2 separate regions of the Homo sapiens genome follow, and region 2 is linked to region 1. The links come from fine-mapping of genetic effects on gene expression. A gene starts in region 1. The other region holds a variant in brackets. All regions are shown on one strand. Distances are between the middles of the regions.

Evidence for each region. PIP is the estimated chance that this variant, and not a neighbour inherited with it, causes the effect.
Region 2: its variant is fine-mapped to the expression of WDR3 in whole blood (INTERVAL, PIP 0.99).

The regions. Positions count from the first base shown.
Region 1 is chr1:117,927,554-117,932,936 of GRCh38, reverse strand. WDR3 (WD repeat domain 3) reads right to left here and starts at 3,198. Exons shown (of 27, transcript NM_006784.3): 1 at 3,155-3,198. It overlaps GDAP2 (ganglioside induced differentiation associated protein 2), which reads left to right and starts at 3,316. Exons shown (of 14, transcript NM_017686.4): 1 at 3,316-3,489. RefSeq lists enhancers at 3,046-3,215, 3,097-3,391.
Region 2 is chr1:117,825,158-117,830,540 of GRCh38, reverse strand. No RefSeq gene overlaps it. Among named protein-coding and RNA genes, the nearest start is that of GDAP2, 100 kb to the left of the region's middle. The variant TGAGA/A (reference allele first, on the strand shown) is at 2,024.

The DNA of each region.
Region 1 (5,383 bases):
AGGTGTTAGCCACTGCGCCAGAACAACACCAACTGTTGATCATGTCATTAAAAGCATGTAACTTGTGACTTCTTAATCTTTATTTACTCTAAATGAATCATTGACCTAAAATACCTGGACATCATTTTTTATTCAGTGTTGACTCAATATAATCCCTCATTCCTCAAGTTCCAAATTAGTCACGTTGTCATGCCCACCTCATGCATATCTGACATTATAGGCTCAATGCAGCTAAACTGATTTACTTCTGCCCATTAAACCAGCATCAAAGCTTTTACACAGAGATTGGCAGTCTGAGACTGAACATATTTTTCAATGAATATCTATTGAAAACCTACCAATTAGACAGGCACCATTCTAGACACTGGAAATACACTATTAACAAGGCAAAATCCCTAACCTCATGGTACTTACCTTCTTGTACAGTGGTTCTCTAACTCTAGTATACATCCAAATCACCTGGAGGGCTTATGAAAACATTGCTAGAAAACACCATCTCATCTCTTCTCCCAGCACCTGTTTCTGATTTCATAAGTCTGAGGTAGGGCCTAGAATTTTTCATTTCTAACAAGTTTCCAAGTGATGCTGCTATTGCAGTTCTTGGACCACACTTTGAGAACTACTAGTACATGAAAGTCTGTCCTTCATTTCAAAATCAGAGCAGCCACTTACCCTTGGCATAGAAAATGGTTGAGCAACTTGGCACACTATTTTTGGAAAGATGCCATAATTTCTGCACTTTTATTAAATTCACTGAAAATCCATAATCCACTGGTTATTTATAAAAGGGACAAGAGGTGAATGAAGGAGATAACAAATCAGTCCCATCTGTTCTTTACATGGAAGAGTAAAAAGTATCCCCAAAAAACACCCATGCAACTTAAAACACACAAAAATAAAGAAGTTACAGTCTTTTATGAGGAGCTGTTTCTTTTTGCTATTGTTTTTTGTTTCTTTGGTTGGTTGGCTTAACTCTACAGGGTCTTTCTAATTATCAAATGCTGTTTTAGTCTAACACAAAAAAAATTCAATCTCAACTCTCTGATAATATTTTCTGGTAATAATCACTTACTGGCCTCATTGCTTCTCTCACAGGAACCAACATAAAGCCAATTTAAAATCAAGGAAAGATAATATTAACATGGTGATAATGCTCTTAGCCTAGGCCATTTGATTAATTCTTTCCCAATTCCTCTTATTCCTCCAGACTCTGTAGTTGTTCCTTATGTTTGTCTGTCTTTGGCCATCTACCACCTCCTTCTACAGTGTTTTCCTTGGAGAATTCATATAGCATGCCTAGGTCCAGGGACTCCCATCTGTCTATTTCCAGTCCTTTCCACCTACATGAATACTAATTATAGAGTTTCCAATATTTACTGAACATCTCCACTTGAATACCTTATAGTTTCACATTTAACATGTCTATAACCAAGCCTACCTTACTTCTGGTACCCCTCTCTTTTCTTCTGACACTAAGACACAATTTTCCCAGCTCTTCAGGCTCAAAACCATTTAATAACCTTTGAATTATTAATAAAAAAATATTATTATAGCAGCCAAGATTTAGAGAGTGCTTACGCTATAGTAACTGATAACATTATGCAATTGTTTAATTACATACAGCAATTAATGAAACCGAGCTAACATATGCAAAGCACTTAGAAAAGCCTCTAGCACATTGTAAATATGAGCATAAAAAAATTATCCATAAGGACCTGGTATGGTGGCTCATGCCTGTAATGCCAGCACTTTGGGAGGCCAAGGCCTAGGAGTCAAGAGTTTCAGACCAACATAGGCAACACAGCAAGAACCTATCTCTACAAAACATTTTTTAAAAAATTAACCAGGCATGGTGACGCACTCGGGGAGGCTGAGGCAGAAAGATCACTTGAGTCCAGAAGTTCGAGGTTGCAGTGAGCTATGATCACGCCACTGCACTCCAGCCTGGGTGACAGTGAGACTCTGTCTCTAAAAATAAATAAACAAATTCTCCACAATAACACCACAAGGGAAGTCACTCTTCCTATCTCTATTTTACAGACAAGGAACTCAGACCCAGAGATGGCAAATTGCTAACTCAAAGTCATTTAGCAGCTAATTGCCAAAGCCAGATCCCAATCCAGCCAGTCTAACTCCAAAATTTCTGCTTTTAACCACTATGCTAAACTGCTTCTCTTTGCCTCTTTCTCTTTAGTCAATTCCACCTGACTGTTACTCTGAAACAGGATCCCTTTCTCTCCAGCACTTTCAGTTCCAGCTCTTTATCACTGGATTACTGCACTGATTTTCCACCTAGCACCTCCGCCTCCATGTTTTTCACTCTTTTCATTTAAACGTCATAATACTACCGACTAATCTTTTCAAATGAGCTTTCCCTATCCTAAAGCCTTGAAAAGGCTAAATCGTTTGCCAGTTTCCAAAAACTCATCCTATCTAACCCCCGTATTTCTCGAATAAACCTTCCTGTCAGGCTGGCTAGTTTCCTTCCTCGTCCCGCGACCTTGTATTCTTCATATTATTCGTTTTACTTAGAATAACATCCATGTTCTCCTCTACTTCTTTTAACTAATATTATCTTCTGAGGCCCACTTCCTTTCGAGTAAGCCCAATTCTAGCAGCCTTTTTTCATCGCCTCGATATTTAAACTACCTCCCATACAACTTGCACTGTTCACTTTGTTCCACGTGCACAGCTTTCGCCTCCTTTCTGACAGTTCACGACCAAACCTTCTTCCGAGACCCCATGATCTCCGCTTCCTAACCTACAGCCCCCAAAACGATGTTTCCAAGATGCACTGAAGGCCTGGACCGTGGCAACAGACCTGCCACACATTCCTAAACGAGTCTTCGGTCAGGGGAGGGTGACGGAGGGTTCCACACACCGAACACACGGTCATATCATCCTCAGGCCAGCCCGTGCACACGCACGGTCAGGCAGCTCTGCTCAGCACCCGCAACCGCGCCGAGTAGCTGAGGGGCTTCCAAGTACTGCTGTGGGGACGCCCGTAGTTACCTGAGTTCCCCCAGCCCTAGCAACCGGCCTTTAACACGCCCGTCTCGGCTGCTGCTGACATCACGAACGCCTCAGCCAGAATCTGCAAAATCGGAGCCGCAGATAATGCTCTCCGCCCCAACCACGCACCTCCAGGACTCACCTCAGCCTCCACGAGGCTCCCAGCCGATTGGACCCGCCCACAAGACCTGCCCCTTCCGGGTCCGTTCCGGAAGCCTCTTCCGCCAGAGGTTCCCTTTGCCTTCTAGGAGGAAATGACGGAGAAAGCCGGGCGCTGATTGGTGAGCTCTGGCCAGGAGCGGAAGCCGGTGTTTCGCAGCCCAGAGCATTTGCAGCTGGTCACTCCAGTCTCCTGGGACTTTGACTCGCCGTACTCGGCGCGCTCCTGCTGAGGGTCGCCGGAGATGTCGCTCGGCCGCCTTCTACCAGGAGCCTGATCCGTGCCGCCCGCCGCCCGGATGGGACCACCAGAGTGCTGTGAGAGGAGGGACTGAGGCCGGGAGGGAAGGCGGGGCGGAGAGGGCCGGGGGCGCGGTCCGAGGCGCTCGGGACTCGGCCCTGGTCAGGATTGCAGGCTGAGGGTTAGTTCTGTCACTTCTCTTGAAGAACGAGCCTGGCGCCACTTCCTCGCATGTTGGTTAGGTTCTTTCCCGAGGCGTTGTCGGGGACGCCGTCTCTACGAGAAGTGAAAGGGTGGGCAGTCGGCGGGCACTAGGAACAGTGGTGCTGTAGCCAAGGAGGCGGGCGCCCTAGGGTGCAGGTGAAATGGGGCAGGCGGGAGCTCTTGCTGGTTGTAGTCCCAAAGACAAGTCCGTGTTGCCGTTCCTGTGGACTGGACATTCTACGGAACCGAGAGCACCTCGGGTGAGGGGTGGGTAGACGCTGAGCCCAGGATGGTGCGTTGTCTAGGTTCCCGCAATCCCTGGAGTGACACTGGCCTGGCTTTGTGTTTCCGCTCTCTGGCCGCTTGAGGGGGAAGTGACCAAGGCTGACTCCTCCTTGTTTGCTCACTGAGACTTAAGTGCTCTTTCACCAAGTGGGAATTAGCTTTTCTCTCTTGCATTTCTGCTACTTTTATTCTTGAGCTGCATAGAAGTGTTTAGAAATGAGTTCTGATGTCTAGAGCTGTGCAAAATTAAAGCTAACATAGCTGTACAAAAGAAGATCCTGCCGGCGCTTCTTGAACAAGGTATCTGCAGCCAGCCTAGAAATTAGACTTTTGTCTACATTATCTGATTTTCTTTAGAGTTTCCTGAGCTTAATGCATGTTCAGCTAATCTTCCATATTCAAGAAAATTGCAATAGCAAAGAATGCGTATGATGAGACTGTGGACAGCTGTAGCAGCATAGGAGTTTTGAAACAAGATTGCTGTGTATTGGATAAATGAGAAGGGAAGAAATTGTGGCCACAAACTATTATTTTAATAAGCTTGGTGGGAAAGGGAGCATTTGAGTGGGTATGTATGGTTAATATCCCTGACAGGTGCTGTGCATTATATTATTATGGGGAGAAGTGTGTGCTTCAATGGAAAACTACATAGTTTAGATTCTATCTTAACACCCCTTGGAATAACTAATTCTAAAAAAGCTATTTTTCAGTTACGTAAACTAGGTAAGTGACATCAATGCTAAATAATTATTGTCAAGACATGCGAATTCTCTCAGAGATTCAGTGGAAGTTTTGCCTCCTTTTGCACATTTATTTCAATATTCCTGCTCTAAGGTGTCTAATTCTGGGATTTTCTTTATCTTCTCTGCCTGGTTCCATTTTGAGTTAAATAAAATCTTGAACACGGGTTTGGTTTTATATTTGAATGAGTCATGATTTTACCTTTTCTTAAAAAACTATCTTAATATTATTAAATATTATGGGATGGGACAACCACAGATGGAAAAAAATGATTTTAATAAGAGTTGGTATCAGAGCAACTGTGAGTGGTAAGGTAATGCATCTTACAAAATTCCTTATACAATGTTTCAAGGATGTAACTCTACTTCCTTATTTAAGTTTCAAAATGCCTAATATATCAATATTTACAATTAAAACATAGTGCAGTTCATTTAATATGAAGGGGTACTACTAATTTACTGTTAGGATATGTTCTTTGGGTGCTTTTGAATTATGATGTTAAATTTGACCCAAGCCATTGACAAGCTTAGGAATGTTCTTGTTATACTGTATTTATTGTTGACATATTTGACTACTTCAGTTAGTCTTCCAATCTGAAAATCTTTTTTAAAAAATGTCTTTCTGATGGCATAAAATGATTCTTAAGTATGGTGTTGGATGGTGGCATAAAATGATTCTTAAGTATGGTATGCACACATATCCTCATGTACTCTGAACTGTTAAATATTGAAATACAAAGTC
Region 2 (5,383 bases), 100 kb after region 1:
ACTTTCCCTCATCTTCCTGTCTTCTTTTGAGCGTCCACACTCTTCCAACCTCTGCCCATTGCCCAGTTCCAAAGGTGCTTCCATATTATCAGTTATCTTTATAGCAAGACCCCACTCCTGGTACAAATTTTCTATGTTAGGCTGTTCTTACATTGCTATAAAAAATACCTGTGACTGGGCATGGTGGCTCACACCTGAAATCCCAGCACTTTGGGAGGCCAAGGCAGGCGGTCACCTGAGGTCAGGAGTTCGAGACCAGTTTGGCCAACGTGGTGAAACCTCATCTCTACTAAAAATACAAAAAGTAGCTGGGTGTGGTGGCACATGCCCATAATCCCAGCTATTCAGGAGGCTGAGGCAGGAGAATCACTTGAACCCAGAAGGTGGAGGTTGCAGTGAGTTGAGATCATGCCACTGCACTCCAGCCTGGGTGACAGAGTGAGACTCCATCTCAAAACAAACAAACAAAAAGAAATACCTGAGACGGGTACAAGGCAAAATGAACTCTACGTAAAAAGAGAAAAACAACCAACCCCTGAGACTGGGTAATGTATAAAGAAAAGAGGTTTCATTTGGCTTACAGTTCCACTTTATAGGAAGCATGGTGCTGGTTTCTGCTCAGCTTCTGGGGAGGCTTCAGTGAGCTCTTACTCATGGCAGAAGGCAAAGTGGAAACCCACACGTTACATGGCAAAAGCAGAAGCAAGGGGAAGGGAGGAGGTGACACACACTTTTAAAAAATCAAATCTCACAAGTACTCACTATTGTGAGGACAGCACCAAGGCATGAGGGATCTGCCCCCATGATCCAATTACCTCCCACTAGGCCCCCCTTCCAACATTGGAGATTATATTTCAACATGTAATTTAGACTATAGGTAGGACAAATAACTAAACCATTTCAGACATAGATATCTTAAATTGAAGTGAAATTTACATAACATAAAATTAACCATTTTGACGTAAACATTTTCAGTGACATTTAGTGCATTCATAATGTTGTGCAACTGCCACTGATTTATATTTTGAAAACATCCTTCTGGTTGCTATGTGGAAAAGGGATAGTGGGGTGGTCCTATGGTCTGAATGTCTGTGTCCCCCCAAAGTTCATATGAAAATCTTAACGTCCAATGTGATGGTGTTAGGATGGAGAGCCTTTGGGAGGTGATTAGGTCAGGAACCCTGATGAATGGAATTTGTACCCTTATAAAAGAGGCTCCAGAGGACTGCCTTCCTCTCTCATTTTTTATTTCTTTTTTAATAAAGATGAGGTGTCATCATATTACCCAGGCTGATCTGGACCTTCTGGGTTCAAGTGATCCTCCCACATCAGCATCCCAAAGTGCTGGGATTGCAGGTGTGAGCCACCATGTCCAGCTTGCCTTGTTCTTTCACCATGTAAGGACACAGACAGAAGGTGCTCTCTGTGAACCAGGAAATGGGGCACTGTTTCTGCTGGCATCTTAATCTTGGACTTCCCAGCCTTCAGAACTGTAAGAAACAAATTTCTGCTATTTATAAGCCACCCAGTATATGGTGTTTTGTTTTAGTAGCCTAAGTGGACTAAGACAGTGGGGGAGCCAGGGAACAAGAGAAGAAACATGTCTGGAGGCCAGCGCTGTGTCCAGGCAAGAGATTATGGTGGCTAGGGTATAGCAGAAAGGATGAAGAGAAATGGCAGATCTATAGGGCATATTTTTTAGGAAAAGTCAACAGGGCTTTCTAACAGATTCAATGGACCATGTAAGAAAAATATGATATATATGAAAGTACTCTGTAAACTTCATACACTTGAAATGTTAACATCATTATGAAGAACAGGGCTTCATGATCATTAAAGAGAAAGAGCTTGACTGGATGGTCTCTCAAGATCCCTCTGAGTCCTGAAATCCTCTGATGCTTTAAAGGTGGGTAAACTGCCTTTGGTACAAAGGGGAAGAATTATTTAAAGATTTTCTTGATCCCATGCAGTGTCCAAGTGCTTTCAGAGGACAGTCCAGGGCATCATCCAACCACACACTCAG[TGAGA/A]ACAGGCAAAGCCTGCCTTCCTCCAGCCAGCAGGACTACGTCATGGCCTGGAGGCGAGCATGGGAACTGGCAGGCCTGGGCTCAGCATCCCAGACACTACACTCCTAAGAGGGAAGTGCCCTGACGCCTGGGCTCTCAGACCTCAGCGATGTCCAGTAAAAACACACTGGGTGGTGAGGCCTGGGGCCAGAGAAGGGAAAGTGCTTCCAGCAGTGCAGCCCTGTGTGGATGACTTTTGCTGGCAGTGAGCATGCCTTAAAGGCTATAGCACAGCTCCCAGAGTCCCCAGGGGCTGGAGGCTGAGATCTTTCACACAAGTGAGGCTCATATCAGACCCTGTCAGTATCCAGATCATGTTCAGGTGGCAAGGGTCTTCAAGAAAGACACTCTCCAAAAGACACTTTTTTTCCTCCCTCCTTTCTTCTGCTTTGAAGAGTGTGCCGTTAATCAAAATCTATGTGGTTTATAATCTTCACAACCTCCTCTGGAAAAACTGACCTCTTTTTCATATAAGATTTAGCTTTAGATAGTTAGGTTTCAACTGGGCTGGGAAAACTTTTCTTAACAGAGAGTTTCTCCCTAAGCAAATAAAGAAGCTGAATTAACTGTTTAAAGTTCCTGAGTAATAATACCACTGCTATTATAACTTGTGAAATGGTCCTTCTTCCATCAGAGAGAACAAACAGCTCTTAGACACCACCAGAACGATGGTTTTCAAAGTGTGGACCCCAGACTAACAGCACTGCCATCTGCGTCTCCTAGCACCTGTTAGAGATACAAATTCTAGGGCAGCATTCCTGACCTACTGAATGATAAACTCTGAAGGTGGGGCACAGAAATCTGTGTTTTAAAATGCCTTTAAAGAGGTTTTGATATACACTCAAGTTTGAGAACCACTGCATTAGAGAAACAGAGAAATGTGGAGCCACAGAAAGTCTGAGTAGAGGAATTAGGTATGCACCTGATCACATGATGGATGGAGAAAGGAAGGCCACAGAGAGAGAAGGTGACTTGTCCTAGAAGACACAGAGGACAGGTCACCTTTTGGTCTCTGGGTTCTCCCTCCCTTCCCAAAGGAAGACTCAGATTTTTCTTTTGAATTATATTTTTCCCAGAAGTTTTAGCTGTTCACTTTCCCATTAACTTTTAACAATTTACTCCATGTGTTTACATAAATCTGGTCATTTTATAGTGTAGAAAGTATATGACACTGAAATGCTCAAGAGATCTCAAAGAGAATGTGGCTTAGGTTGGGTTCCCTGAAAGCAGACTTGGTGACAGAGACTAGCATGCAGAAGGTTTATTGGGTATGTTTCCAGAGATGCACTTACAAGGATAGGTGGGGGAGAAATTGACCCTTCATATGTTGTAACTGAGGCCTTACCAATGCTACAGGGAGTGCTGGAGCTGAGATGAGCCTTCAGAATTGTCTCCTACTAAAGCCAAGGGCCCAACCATTGTATCTCTGCATCAGGCAGTCATTGGCTATTGAGCCATGCCTGGGAGGGGCCTTAGTCTGGAGCCAGATAGTTCTCTGCCAAGGTCATTGCCTAGGAAGGGACACAGCTGTGAGCCATCAGCAGCTGGAGGCTTGTGCCTCAGCCCTGAAGTGGGGATCTGGACACAATATGAAAGTATTGTCCACAGAAGGCATTCCAGATTTGGGATGGTTGGGGCAGGGTCAGAAAAAATCACCTGCTGAAAGTAGAGACAGAAAACCCCAAGACACGATATCAAAAGAATCTGATCCTAAGAGAAAATGTGTTGCTCATAAGACTAAAATATTTATCATCTCTGCTAAATGCTCCAAAATCTAGTAAAGAAGATGATGGTATGTGCCAGAGCTTTCCAACAGATCTGTCAGGGCCAACTGATGAGCAACAATGAGTCACAGATGTGTGGGGATTTTTACTTCCTGTAGATCTCAGGGTGGCAGAACAGGACCTGGGATGGCTAGAATCCTTCTGTCAATTCATACACATATTGTTGCATGAGTGCATTATTTACAAAAAATTAGAAAGCCCTAGCTTATAAAAGAAGTTGTCATCTACCCAATTGTGCCCTATTATATCTGGCATCACAGATGGTCTGCATAAATACTCTCTAAACTGGTGGGTGACCTCAAGCACTGTGCCAGGGTGAGAGCCCTCAAATTCTGAGAACCAGTACTTTTTATTCAGAAACGTCTCCAGAGCGCAGAAAGGCAGTGAATCCAGCTACTCTAGAATGATGAAATAGCCTTATAAACAAGAACACTCTTGAAACTTTGCTCTGCTTTTGTCTACATCAAGAAAATCTCCTTTATATTTCAGCATCCCAAGTAAGATTATTTATCCTCAGGGGCACTCTCAGAAAAGGTTGGGCACTTATGATCCTACCTGATACCCTCATTGATAAGTCTGTATTCATTTGTCAATCAGGCTCTTACTTAGAGAATCAGCTCCCCATAGCCTTCTTATCTCTGAGGAACTTAAGGAATTAAGTTCCCAACCCAGCAAACCTGAGGGCCAACTCCTGGCTCATGGTGACCTTAGGCAATTTACTTTCCCGGCAGCATCATTTAATGATTTCCCTAAAGGAAACATCTCACACAGAAGGGACTAGCCATGGGGAGACCACTGTTTTGCCACTGGGTACCTGAAAACTTCATCTGTCCAGATCTGAGCAGGATAAAAAGGAGTTTGGAGTCAGACATCTGGTCAGTGAGGCTTTTGCTGGCTCCCTGTGAGAATAGCTGAATCCCTGTGGCACCAACACTTAGGTAGCATGCTCTGCAATCACTGGTCCTGGGGACAGACTAAGGGAAACGCTGAAAGCATACTCAGAGGGTCAGTTCAGATGGGAAAAGTAGCTTTCCTAAGGTTGTAGGGGACAAAGGCTGCTTCCCACAGAGCCTGCCTCAGGGGTTTGGAACCGGCCAGGGCAACAGGCCAGGTATTTCAAGCCTGTTGCAAGACCATCTGGGGAGACTGGATGGAGTTGGGATTTTGTTCCTGCACCCCATCTTCCCATTCTATCTCTCATCATTTTGTAGGGAAGAAACACTAGGTCTTCCCTGTGTGGTTGTGAGCTTTGACCCAAACCCTTGAGCTACCTGGCCCCAGAGCTGCCCCAGGATTAGATCTTAGGTGTATTTCAAACTGTTTTTGTCTTCCCACTGGGCTATGGGAAACATGGCCCTCTTGATTTACTTTCTGAGGAGAAAACTGAGAAGTAGTAGCGGACTGAATACCTAGCATCTCTACCAGAGGTTCCCACTTAGTGGCAGGAGAATTCCCCATGTACCTAACACGCATACAACAGTTTCATTCTGTAACACTAGAGAAAGGTGTGCTGGCCTCCTCTCATGTGATACC